Linked DNA regions of Homo sapiens. The protein of the gene in region 3 interacts with the protein of the main gene of each other region in a pairwise test. Each region holds a gene or a part of one and is shown on either strand. Other genes may lie near its edges.

Region 1 (3,650 bases), on a different chromosome or scaffold from region 3:
CCTGGGGTCGGTCCTCCTGTGACAACGCGCATGGGCACCGCTGCACACCCAGGCCTCTCCCACTGCAGCCAGGCTTGCAGGAGGGCCTGCCAGGGAGCAACGTTCTGAGATGGCTCCAGTGAGCGCTCACAGGGGGCCCCCTAAGCCTTCCTCGAGTCCCTGGGGCCCAGCTGAAGGCAGGCCTTGGTGAAGGGAAGGGGAATCCCACTGTTCGTGGCCCCTAAGTGCGGGCCCTCGCCCCACTTCCCTGCGCAGGGACCTCACCCTCATCCATGTCATAGCGGAACTCCTCCTGGTCATACTCCCGGCTCTCTTCCCGGAGGACGTCTGCATCTTCATCTCCAGGCCTCATGTCCATCTCACCCTCGAAGCCCTCCAGCAGAGCCTGGGCCTCCTCCCCGGGTTCTCCTGCACCTGAGATAAAACACAAGTCAGAAGCCTGAGTTCCTGGGAAAAATGGAGCCTGCAGACCTGTGCAGGGCAGCTGTCCCCTGGGCTGCCGTGCCCCCACCCTCCCCCTCCCACTGGCAGCACCTCATGTTCCCCATCTCAACATCCACCCAGCCCAGCCTAGGCCTGGCCAGGGGAGCAGCCCAGTCCCCACTGTAGTCAGTGGCTTGGGGATGGGAGCAGGTAGTCTGATAACTTTCATTCCTGAGGGTGTTGATGAGACTCTTGAGAAAGAGAAGTCCCCTGGGGTTCCTGAGAGTGCCAGCCAGGGGAGCCAGCAGAGAGGAGAGCTGGGACAGAGGGCAGAGGCTGCCCGGCCATTCTGGGGGCTGTCCCGGAGCTTCCCAGTCACATGAGCCAAGAAATTCTTAGCAGCATGAGTATTCTTTCACGGAGGCCAATCGGAGTTGGCTTTCCTCCGCTTGCCATGGAAGGGATCTCACCCGGGGTAGCCACCTTCAACTTTCCCCAGCACATTAAGGACTTCCAGAAAGACCACTGGGTTGGACATGGAGGTGCCACACGGACCCTTCTTCAGGGAAGGGCTGTCCCCTCAGCTGCTGTCAGTGCCAGCCCGGGGTCACACCCACATTCACTCACTGACCTAGGTGAGGGGATAAGGGTCCCCGAGACGCCACAGTGCTCCCCATGGAATGAAGCAAGGTTGTGGAGGCCACACCTCCGCCTCTGTCCAATCAACTCTGTTTCTTTCCTCTCCCCTCCGCTCTCCGGGAGTGTCCTCCAATCCCAAAGGCTCTCCCTAATAACATCCCGCACACTCAACTGACCCAGCATCTGATTTTCAGAGAGTCCAACCACACCTGGCCTGAAAACAGGATGTCCACAACTCCCACAGCCCAAAGGCGCCCACACCCTCCATCCCACAGCCTGGGGATGCCCCACACCCTCTGTCCCACAGCCCGGGGGATGCCCCACACCCTCTGTCCCACAGCCCGGGGGTGCCCCACACCCTCTGCCCCCTCCACCCCACAGCCCGGGGATGCCCCACACCCTCTGCCCCCTCCACTCCACAGCCCGGGGATGCCCCACACCCTCTGCCCCCTCCACCCCACAGCCCGGGGATGCCCCACACCCTCTGACCCCTCCACCCCACAGCCCGGGGATGCCCCACACCCTCTGTCCCACAGCCCGGGGGTGCCCCACACCCTCTGCCCCCTCCACCCCACAGCCCGGGGGTGCCCCACACTCTCAGCTCCTGGAGCGTCTTGGCCAGGTCCATCCGTAGAGGTCGGCTTTTTGGGGAGAGTTGGTGTCCACAGGGCCAATTCAGTGATTTGGGTAGCTTTCCATTTTGGAACAACAGTTACTAATTCTTCCTCCTCTTCCTCTTCTCCTCTTTCCTATTTTAAGTGCAAAAATGTACATTTACCAACATTTGTGTCATCTTGGTCTGGAATATTAAAAGTGAGGGAGGAAGGACAAGTTTTGAAAGACAGGTTTTGGCTTGTGTTTCAGCCTTTTTAGGACGTCACTCAGGAATCAGACCAGTTGCTGACTATCCATGGTATAATCTCAGGGTTGAGAATGGATCTTGAAAGAGCCAGGGTGAGGAATAAAGTCTCCAGAGCAATGCTGGGCCAGCGAGCTTTATAATGGGTGCCACAAAAGGCTTTCAGATGAGCATGTCGCAGTCGCCTGCAATAGCTAAGACATGGCCAGGACTAAGTGGCCAGAACTGAGTGACCAGGAGTAAGTGGTCTTTTCAATTGTTCGGCCACATTTTGCAACTCTAATATAAAAAATCGTGTATTATATAATTATATGTCTATTGAGCTTAGTAGAAACATAATTATTTATATTATTCTTTATATAAATAATAAAAGAAACAGCCATTTGTTTTAGGCTTAGGCCTAAGAAGTTCCTAAGATGTCCATATGATATGGATTTGCATAAACGCAAAAGCTCAAGTGTCAAGGATTATGGGGAAAAATAAAATTCAAGGAAAGCAGAATGAGAGTTCATCAAGTCTGAACATGGAACACTTTGTAATAAAAAATGTACAATTCCGACAATGGTGAGCAGCCAACATGTGCCAATTTTGCCAAGCATATTTGCCTACTTCTCAGTTTTGTGACTATCACAAAATTCCAAAGATCTGAGCATCAGCACTATGACTATGGAACACTTCGCTGCCACATAGGTGATAATACCGATGACAGAGAGGGGCAGACACCTGCCTCTTCCACTGAGTCACTGGGAAATCAATTACTCTCTATTTTGGTCTCAGAGTGTTTGAATATGGCCACCCATGAAGGGTGACACCAATGCTGCAGGACAGGGTCCTCAAACTTGACTTAGATCAGAATCACCCAGAAAGCATTAAAAGACAGATTGCTAGCCCCACCCCCAGAGTTTCAGATTCGGCAGGTCTGGGATAGCGTCCAATAAGCTGCATTCCTAACAGATTCCCAGGTGAAGCTGACAGCACTAGTTTGGGAACTGCACGCCACTTTATGTATAAAACCAAGAGGTGGAACCCTTTCACATTGCTGGTGGGAACGTAAAATGCTGCAGCTACTGTAGAAAACATTTGACAGTTCTTCAAAAAGCGAAACAGCATCACCATATGACCCAGCAATTCCACTCCTCGGTATATAACCAAAGGAACTGAAAACAGAGATTCGACCAGATGCTTGCACACCAATGTTCACTGCAGCATTATTCATAATAGCTAAAATGTGGAAGCAACTCAATTGTCCATCAACAGACAAATGGATAAGCAAGAACCTTGAAAACGTCGTGCTAAATGAAAGAAGCCAGACACAAAAGGACAAATACAGAATGAATTCATCTATATGCGACATCTAGAATAGGCAAATTCATAGAGAAAGAAAGTAGATTAAAAGCTATCAGGGGCTGGGGGAGGTCGAATGGGGAGTTGTTGCTTAATAGGTACAGAGTTTCTGTCTGGGATAACGGACAAGCTCCAGAAATGCATCATTCTCACAGCTGCACAACACTGAACGTACTGAATGCCACTGAAAGCATGCTTTAAAATGGCAAATTTCAAACTCTATAAACGTACATATAAAACCATAATTTAAAAAGAAACAGGGAGTGAGCCGTGGGCTGCAGCTTGGCAAGCCCTACTCTAGAAGGGATACATTCCCCTTACTAGGGAGAGAGAACACGGAGGCCCTTCTGTTCCACCACCATCCTAATCCATCCCCACAGCACAG
Region 2 (3,650 bases), on a different chromosome or scaffold from region 3:
TTTTCCACTGAACTATAAGCTCCTCCAGGGCAGAAACCCTGGATTCACAGCAGCCCGCAAGATGCCAGCACAAGGCCAGCTCAATTCATCCTAAATACCTGCCGCCTAGGAATGAATGGCACAGCTCCTGATGAGTTAGTATACAGCCACTAAAATCACACTACAAAAACGATGCTATAATATGGAAAATACTCACGCCAAAAATGTTTAAAAAAAAAAAAAGCAAGACCCCAAATTCTGTATGCAACACTCACATAAAAAGCACAGTAAGGAAACAAACTATGCAGTTTAGATAAGGGTGAGACGTGGGGAATTTCCTTTCATAGTCCTCCTCTTCAGTTTTTTTCTGTTTTTTTGTTTTGTTTTGTTTTGTTTTTTGAGTCAGGGTCTCACTCTTACTCAGGCTGGAGTGCAGTGGTGTGATAACAGCTCACTGAAGCCTTGACCTTTTTGGGCTCAACTGATCCTCCCACCCCAGCCTCCCGAGTAGCTGGGACTACAGGTGTGTGCAACCATGCCCAGCTAATTTTTTATTTTTTGTAGAGACAAGGTCTTACTATGTTGCCTAGGCTGGTCTTGAACTCCTGGGCCCAAGGGAACCTTCTGCCTCGGCTTCCCAAAGTGCTGGGATTACAGGCGTGAGTCATCACCATGCCCAGCCTCTCTTCTGTATTTTTATATTTTGTTTATCAGCATTCTCTGAGCATGCATTATAAAATATACATTAACTTAGGCTGGATCCAGTGGCTCATGCCTGTAATCCTAGCACTTTGGGAGGTCAAGGCAGGTGGATCACTTGAGGCCAGGAGTTTGAGACCAGCCTGGCCAAACCCTGTCTCTACTAAAAATACAAAAATTAGCCAGGCATGGTGGTGCACGCCTGTAATCTCAGCTACTCAGGAGGCTGAGGCGGGAGAATTGCTTGAACCCGGGAGGTGGAGGTTGCAGTGAGCTAAGATTCGCCACTGCACTCCAGCCTGGGTGACAGAGGGAGACTCTGTCTCAAAAAAAAAAAAAATACACACACACACACACACACACACACACACACACATTAACTTAATAACATAAATTTCCATAGATTCCTTTAAATCTCAAATAACCATCATCACTAGTTATGGGAAAAGACCAAACACAAGTGCAACTGGTACTTACCTTGGGGGAACAATGCTCAGCAGGCCCCTCTGGCTGTGAGGGCAGAGACTTGGGGGTCTGCCATGTACCTGTGCCTCTGCCACTCTGGAACCAGCCCTTCACAACATACCCCAGACCCACCTCTCCTGGAACCCCTTGGAGGGGATGAGGCCGGCTCGAAGGTTGGTGTCCCCGACTCGCTTGGCCTGCCACCACGTGGGGTCGTCCTGGCTCACCACCTCCAGGACCTGCCTGCGCTGGAAGGGCAGGCCCGCCTCCTGGCAAGGGATGGCCCGGTCCTCCCGAGGGTTGTAGTGGAAGAGGGCGCGCATGAACACCTGCACAAGGAGGGCTCTGGTGAGGCGGCCCTTCCCCAAGTGAGCACAGACAGGTCATTGTCACATCAAAGGCCACATGACAACGACCATCCACACTTAGGAGGACCAAGTGGCCTTTCAAATAGAAAGCTACTTGGAAATACACTGCACGTATGTTCTTAACTGTTCTTCAACCATTTGGGATACTATAGTCAGGAAGTCCATCAAGAATCAGAAAATTAATAAGCCCCATGACTGAATGTCTCTTTCCTACCTAAATATTTCCTTATTTACTTGACCAGCTGTCCTCATAACAGCCTCTTAGCATACACACAGCAACAACTAATCCTGGGAACAAAAAGTAAAGGCAAGCACAATTTCTAACTCAAGTGTTATTTTTGATACGCCAACTGCGCTGACGGAAGGCAGCAGCCATCTGTTATATAAGTAATCTAGATGTTTGGGTAAGAACACAAATATCAACAAAACTACTGTTACTGACTCCTCACCATCACTTTTCAGTGGGTAATTGACACCCACAGCTCTTACGGCTCAATCCTGCCTCGTCTGCCATAGACTCGGCCAAGCCCTAATTCCCCCCTCTGCTCTAGAGTCACCCTCTCTGGAGAAGATGGTGTGAGGACACAGCATTTTTCACACTTCCTTGTTCTCTTCGATAATTTAGTGGCATGGATTAACTTTATTTATTTCTATTTTCAGACCATTAGGGCCCAATCACTTCAGTGGCAAACAGGAAAAAAAAAGCAATCAGGGGTCTTCCTCAGACAGATACAAACTCTATTCCTTTGTATGCCAACCAGAAAAGATTCCACTGGACAACAGTAAGAACTTTCTGGCATATGTTGTGGGGACAGATGCCCTTAACCAGCCACAGATGTTACCAGGGTCCTAAGCACTCAGAAGAATGTAATCTTAAGTGGCCAGCCCAAATCAAGCATCTGGATCAAGAAGAAATATTCAAGAAGGACAGGCTGGGGGACAGGCTACTCATTTTGTCCTTTAGGAAAACCAAGTTCTCTTCCTCAAAGAGGTTTCCTCAAGTCAGAACCCTCAAAGTTGCATGTGCGGACCACATTCGCTTGTCCTAGGAAGAATCACTTTCCACCAGGTAAGAGGAAATATTATGCCCTGGGATTTAACCAAAGAGCACAAATAAGAAACAGCTATATAAAGATTATTTCTTCACTTGCTGTAAAAAACTGTCATTGAAGACGTAGTCCATTACAAATCCACATTCTTCAAAGTATCGACTGACATCTCCTCTGTGCTAGATGCTGTAATGTTTCTTCTTTCATGCATTAAGTACTGAGAGGCAGGTATGGGAATGTCTTGAAAAACTGGCATGCTTCCTTCCATTCTCTGCTCAACAGTATGTAATTCATTATGCTCTCCTTTTTGCCTTGGCTGCCAGGAAACTCTACTATGAAATCAAAGTGATGCCCTCCTCTCTATCTCATCAACCACCATCTCACAGTTCAGGTCTTAACGTCTCACCTGGGCTTTTACAAGAGCCTTCTACCAGGCCTCCCTGCCTCCAACCTCTACCCACTCCACCCTCCTCCCCGTGGCTGCCTCACGGAGCTTTCTAAAACACAAATATAACTGCACCACTCCCATCCTAAAAAAAAAAAAAAAAGAGCTTATTAGAACCTATGGGATTATCTCTTGGGCTGTGGGATGCCCTCCCATATGCCCCAGGGCTGGACCATTCAGTGCAGCCTGGGCTGACTTCCAGCTGCCAGCACCTGCATCTCTTTGCCTAAGGACTTACTTTCTCTGGCCACTGGAACCTACTCATCTCTAGTCCAGCAGGCAGAAGTTGCTAGGAATTAATCCCCCGGGTGCAGCCTGGCAGGAGTTGGTATATAGATCGCCCAGCTCCCAGGGCCCCTGGGTGGGATGATGGAGGCGTGTGTTCTACAGGGGAAGAAGTAGTTCCCCAAGTTCCCAGCAGGACTAAGCTCCAGCTGCCCATAGTGGTAACCTGCTTGATAACACACCCTTAGTCAGATTGGCTGTCTTCCCTTTCCCAGTCCTGTACTGGTATTTCCTGGGGCCACTTCCCAAATAAACCATTTGCATTCAATCCTTGTCTCAGGGTCAGCTTCTAAGAGGCCCCACACTAAGCAAGGATTATGCCAAAACCCTTAACAAGGCATTCGAGGCCATTCAGAACAT
Region 3 (4,384 bases):
GCTGGGGTGATGGGAAAATAAGAGGTAACTAATAAAAGGCCATAAAGTTTCAGTCAAGCAAGATGAATAAGCTCTAGAGATCTGCTGTACAACATTGTACCTATAGTCAACAATAATGTATTGTACACTTAAAATTGTGTTCATTATCCTTAGCAAACTAACAGAACGGGAACAGAAAACCAAATACCGAATGTTCTCACTTATAAGTGGGAGCTAAATGATGAGAACTTGTGGACACAAAGAAAGGAACAACAGACACTGGGGCTACCTGAGGATGGTGGCTGGGAGGAGGGAGAGGATCAGAAAAAATAACTATTGGTACTATGCTTAGTACCTAGGGGACAAAATAATCTGTATAACAAACACTGTGACATGAGTTTACCTGTATAACAAACCTGCACATGTACGCCTGAACCTAAAATAAAAGTTAGAAAATAATAAGAAATGAATAAAATGTATTACAGCCTAAAAAAAAAAGTTGTTTTTTTTTTAAAGAGGTCGGATGTTGACCAGGACACACAAGCACAAACTAGAAAAAAAAAAAAAAAATGACAAAACTCAAACAGAGGATTGGAAATCAACTTTGCCAAGATTTGGATGCTTCTGCCATAGTTATTATAATAAGCAGACTGAATTGAATCATGTCATTTATTTTAAACTAATTGTAAGACAATGAATATAAAGTTCAAAAAGGTGTAAGCAGGTGATGGTTTTATTGGCAAACTTATAGGGGTAGTGTATGAAGTCATTTCAAATAACAGATTAAGTTGCTTTCCTTACAACTAAAAGCTTCAATTACTACATTTCAACTTTAATTTAACATCACATCTACATGTGAAGCTTTAATTTCAGGTCTGGAGCAGCTGTAAAATGAAAGTTACCACTCCATTCTAGTCCTTGGATATCAGTATATTCCCCTTCACCTTCCACCCTGCAATAGTAGAAAATAAGTTTTCCATTAACAAAGATGAATAATTTACAGTCCAGATATAAGATTTTCTAGCATAATATATACTATGTCTGAAGATTATATCCTCTACTTTCAAGCTTTGCTTTTAAACCCAGCATCCTGCTTTCATATCCTACCAAAAAAACAAACAAACCAAAAAAAAAAAAAAAAAAACCACATACTATTCCAAACAAAAACAAACAATTATTTGGTGTCCAAGATTTTAGGATCACATAATCTAGGTTCACACAAAACCAAAACAATGAGTTAAAAAAATGAAAAGTTTATATCGGTTATCTAGCTTAATTACTTCACTTATTCAACAAATATTTTTTCACTATCAATGATGTTTGAGGTGCTGTGCCACCGCACCTGGCCTCCAACAATTTTTAGAAACTATATCATAAAAGAATATTTAGAATTAACTAAATATAGTATTTAAGCAGCTGGGCACAGTGGCTCACGCCTGTAATCTCAGCACTCTGAGAGGCCGAGGCAGGCAGATCACTTGAGGTCAGGAGTTCTAGACCAGCCTGCTCAACACGGTGAAACCCCGTCCCTACTGAAAATACAAAAAATAGCTGGGTGTGGTAGTGCACATCTGTGGACCCAGCTACTTGGGTGGCTGAGGCAAGAGAATCGCTTGAACCCGGGAGGCAGAGGTTGCAGTGAGCCGAGATCACTCCACTGCACTCCTGCCTGGATGACAGAGGGAGACTCTGTCTCAATAAATAAATAAATAAATAAGTATTTAAGCAAACATACCAGAAAATAATCTTTTAGAAATGCAGTGATTTTTTTTTATTTTAAGCTTACCTATTTTCATTGAAATTTCCAGTATACTTTGCCCCATTTGGGAATGTGTAAGTCCCCAGTCCATGAAACATATTATCCTTAAATTGTCCTTCATATACTGCTCCTGAAAAATGCTCAAGTCTTCCAAAACCATTCATCTGTTTGTAACAAAGGAAATTACCTTAGAAACTAATCTTCAGTTTCCCAAGAACCTTTAAAAAATGTACAAATATAAGTCTATCATCTGCTAATTATTACTTAACCAACTTTGTATTGTCCTTTATTTCCATAGTATAAAGACAACATTTTTATCATTTTCCTTCATCTGTATCTATCTGTGAAGCCCAGTAAATTAAATGTTCTGGATCTGGGACATTTGAACATCAGGGGGTCCATGATGAAGATAAATAGGGGTCCTCAAGATACCCTGAATGTATCAGAAATCTTAAAGGGCAACCAGTTTAGTTAGTTCAGGAAACCAGTACAAAGTAGTTGTTAAGAATTCAAATTTGGATTTGAGCAGACCAGGGTATACTTTCCTGTTTTATCATTTACTAGCTGGGCAAGAAACCTGAGCCTGATTTTCCTCATTTGTAAAATAGAGTATTAATGGTACCTATCTCATGAGGTTATTATGAGGATTAAATGAGAAAATTATGTAACGGATTCAGCTTTACTCAATGAATAGGAGATGAGAAAGAAAGTAACGATGATTAGCTTTCTACAGTGAGTTTAATATTACTCATAAGTTAATATATGTTAATATGATCATTTGTTATTTTTATTATATAGTCTACTCATTATAGGAGTTTTTGATTAATGGTGAAATGCCTGGAATCACTAAACCTACAGGGTTATTTATCCACTGCCAATATTAAAAACAACAATAATACCTTGTCATCTTTCCAGCTTCCTGTGTAGACAATCCCATTAGGAGTGGTATGAATACCTATTCCATTTCTCTCGTAGATTCCAGAAGATGTTCTTGTACAGTCACCATCTAAACAGAGGAGAAAAACTGAAGATTATAAATGAGAATAGTTATGTCTGGGCCTAATCGCAACTACACCTCATGGGTTTCTTTGGCTCCCTAGCACTGAAACCAGTGAGACCAGAGATGAGAAAATCCATGGACACAGAACATCTTGTAACAATTGAGACTCAAGGGCCAGGAAGATTGACAGATCCCATAGGTTTCCAAGGCATTGGAATTTTGATTTTAAAAGCTCTTTATCTATTAGGATTTCTGTTATTTTAGTTAATAAAGTTAATATCCTAATAGTAGTTTTATAAAATTTAACAGTCTCAGTTTTTTATTCCTAAGCTATTTAATTTTCTATACAGAAAAAGTAATTGAAGCGTATACTTACCATACTTGTCTCCATTTGGAAAGATAAAGCTGATCTTATACACTTCTGAAGCTGTTTTAAAAGATTTAAAAACAGTGACATAAGTTTACTTTTTTTTCGATAGAGGCAAGGTTTCACTACATTGCCCAGGCCAGTCTCAAACTCCTGGGCTCAAGCGATCCTCCCGCCTCAGCCTCCCAAAGTGCTGGGGATGCAAATGTGAGCCACCACACCCAACCAAGTGTAAACATTCTTATGTCATAAGACCTATACCCAATGTGCTTTCAGCACTATCCAAATGGACTTACTTCTCAAGATCACATCATATCATGATTACTTGGTATTTCCATTGTCTAATGTAGGGTCCCGGGGAAATAAACAATTTTGCCTAGATGATCTCTTTTAAAATTTATTTATTATGATAGCTTTATTAATATATAATTCACACACCACAAAATCTACCCTTTAAAAAAATACAATTTGATTTTTTTAGTATATTCAGAGTTGTGCAACTATCATCACAATCTAATTTTAGAATATTTTAATCATCCCAGAAAGAAACTCTGTACACATTAGCAGTTACCCATTATGATTCCCCTCAAACACCCCTCACCCCACAACCCCAAACCCCTGGCAACCACTAATCTACTTTCTGCCTCAGGGATTTGCCTATTCTGGACATTTCTTATAAATGAAATCATATAATATGTGGTCCTTTATGTCTGGCTCGTTTCACTTAATGTTTCCAAGGCTCATCCATGTTGCATCGTGTATCAGTACTTCATTCCTTTTTATAGCCAAGTATATTGTATAAATATGTTGTACAGAAACAGCATATTTTGTTTATTCATTCATCAGTTCATGGACATGTAGGTTGTTTCCAGTTTGAGGCCATTATGAATAATACTGCTATAAACACTGATGTACATTTTCAAAACATACAGCTTCCTAGGAGTAAAAAAAAAATTGGTGTACAGATTTTTGTGTGGATATGTTTTTATTTCTCTTTGGTAGCCCATATGATTTACTGATTGTCCCACAGAGGTAAGGTGGAGTGAGGAATCTTTAAATTGGCAATAGGAAGAAATGGAAAATAAAGATAGCAAGTGGGGAAGGGCTGGTAGGTCCACACAGAATGAGACTGGAATGGAGACCAAGTGAAAAAGGAAGAAAGAGGACCGCAAGACTGAGGGGGACTCTGGGCCTCAGATCCCTGGACACTTACTGGACTAAAACTAGAAACTGTATTTTCCGATACTGAAGAAAACTTATGTAGAGACGGTATGCAGGC

The links.
Region 1: the proteins of MORN2 (region 3) and RSPH1 interact in a two-hybrid assay, tested with the Homo sapiens proteins (one large-scale study listed by BioGRID and IntAct).
Region 2: the proteins of MORN2 (region 3) and MPP3 interact in a two-hybrid assay, tested with the Homo sapiens proteins (one large-scale study listed by IntAct).

The regions. Positions count from the first base shown.
Region 1 is NC_000021.9:42,475,634-42,479,283, forward strand, and holds part of RSPH1 (radial spoke head 1 homolog), read right to left. Parts: intron 1,812-3,650; coding exon 1,658-1,811; intron 415-1,657; coding exon 265-414; intron 1-264.
Region 2 is NC_000017.11:43,819,587-43,823,236, forward strand, and holds part of MPP3 (MAGUK p55 subfamily member 3), read right to left. Parts: intron 1,473-3,650; coding exon 1,276-1,472; exon of another isoform or gene 1,156-1,275; intron 1-1,155. UniProt on the Homo sapiens protein: Participates in cell spreading through the phosphoinositide-3-kinase (PI3K) pathway by connecting CADM1 to DLG1 and the regulatory subunit of phosphoinositide-3-kinase (PI3K). Stabilizes HTR2C at the plasma membrane and prevents its desensitization.
Region 3 is NC_000002.12:38,878,960-38,883,343, reverse strand, and holds the end of MORN2 (MORN repeat-containing protein 2), read right to left. Parts: intron 3,166-4,384; coding exon 3,115-3,165; intron 2,745-3,114; coding exon 2,638-2,744; intron 1,903-2,637; coding exon 1,766-1,902; intron 932-1,765; coding exon 829-931; 3' UTR 635-828; downstream 1-634. UniProt on the Homo sapiens protein: Might have a role in spermatogenesis.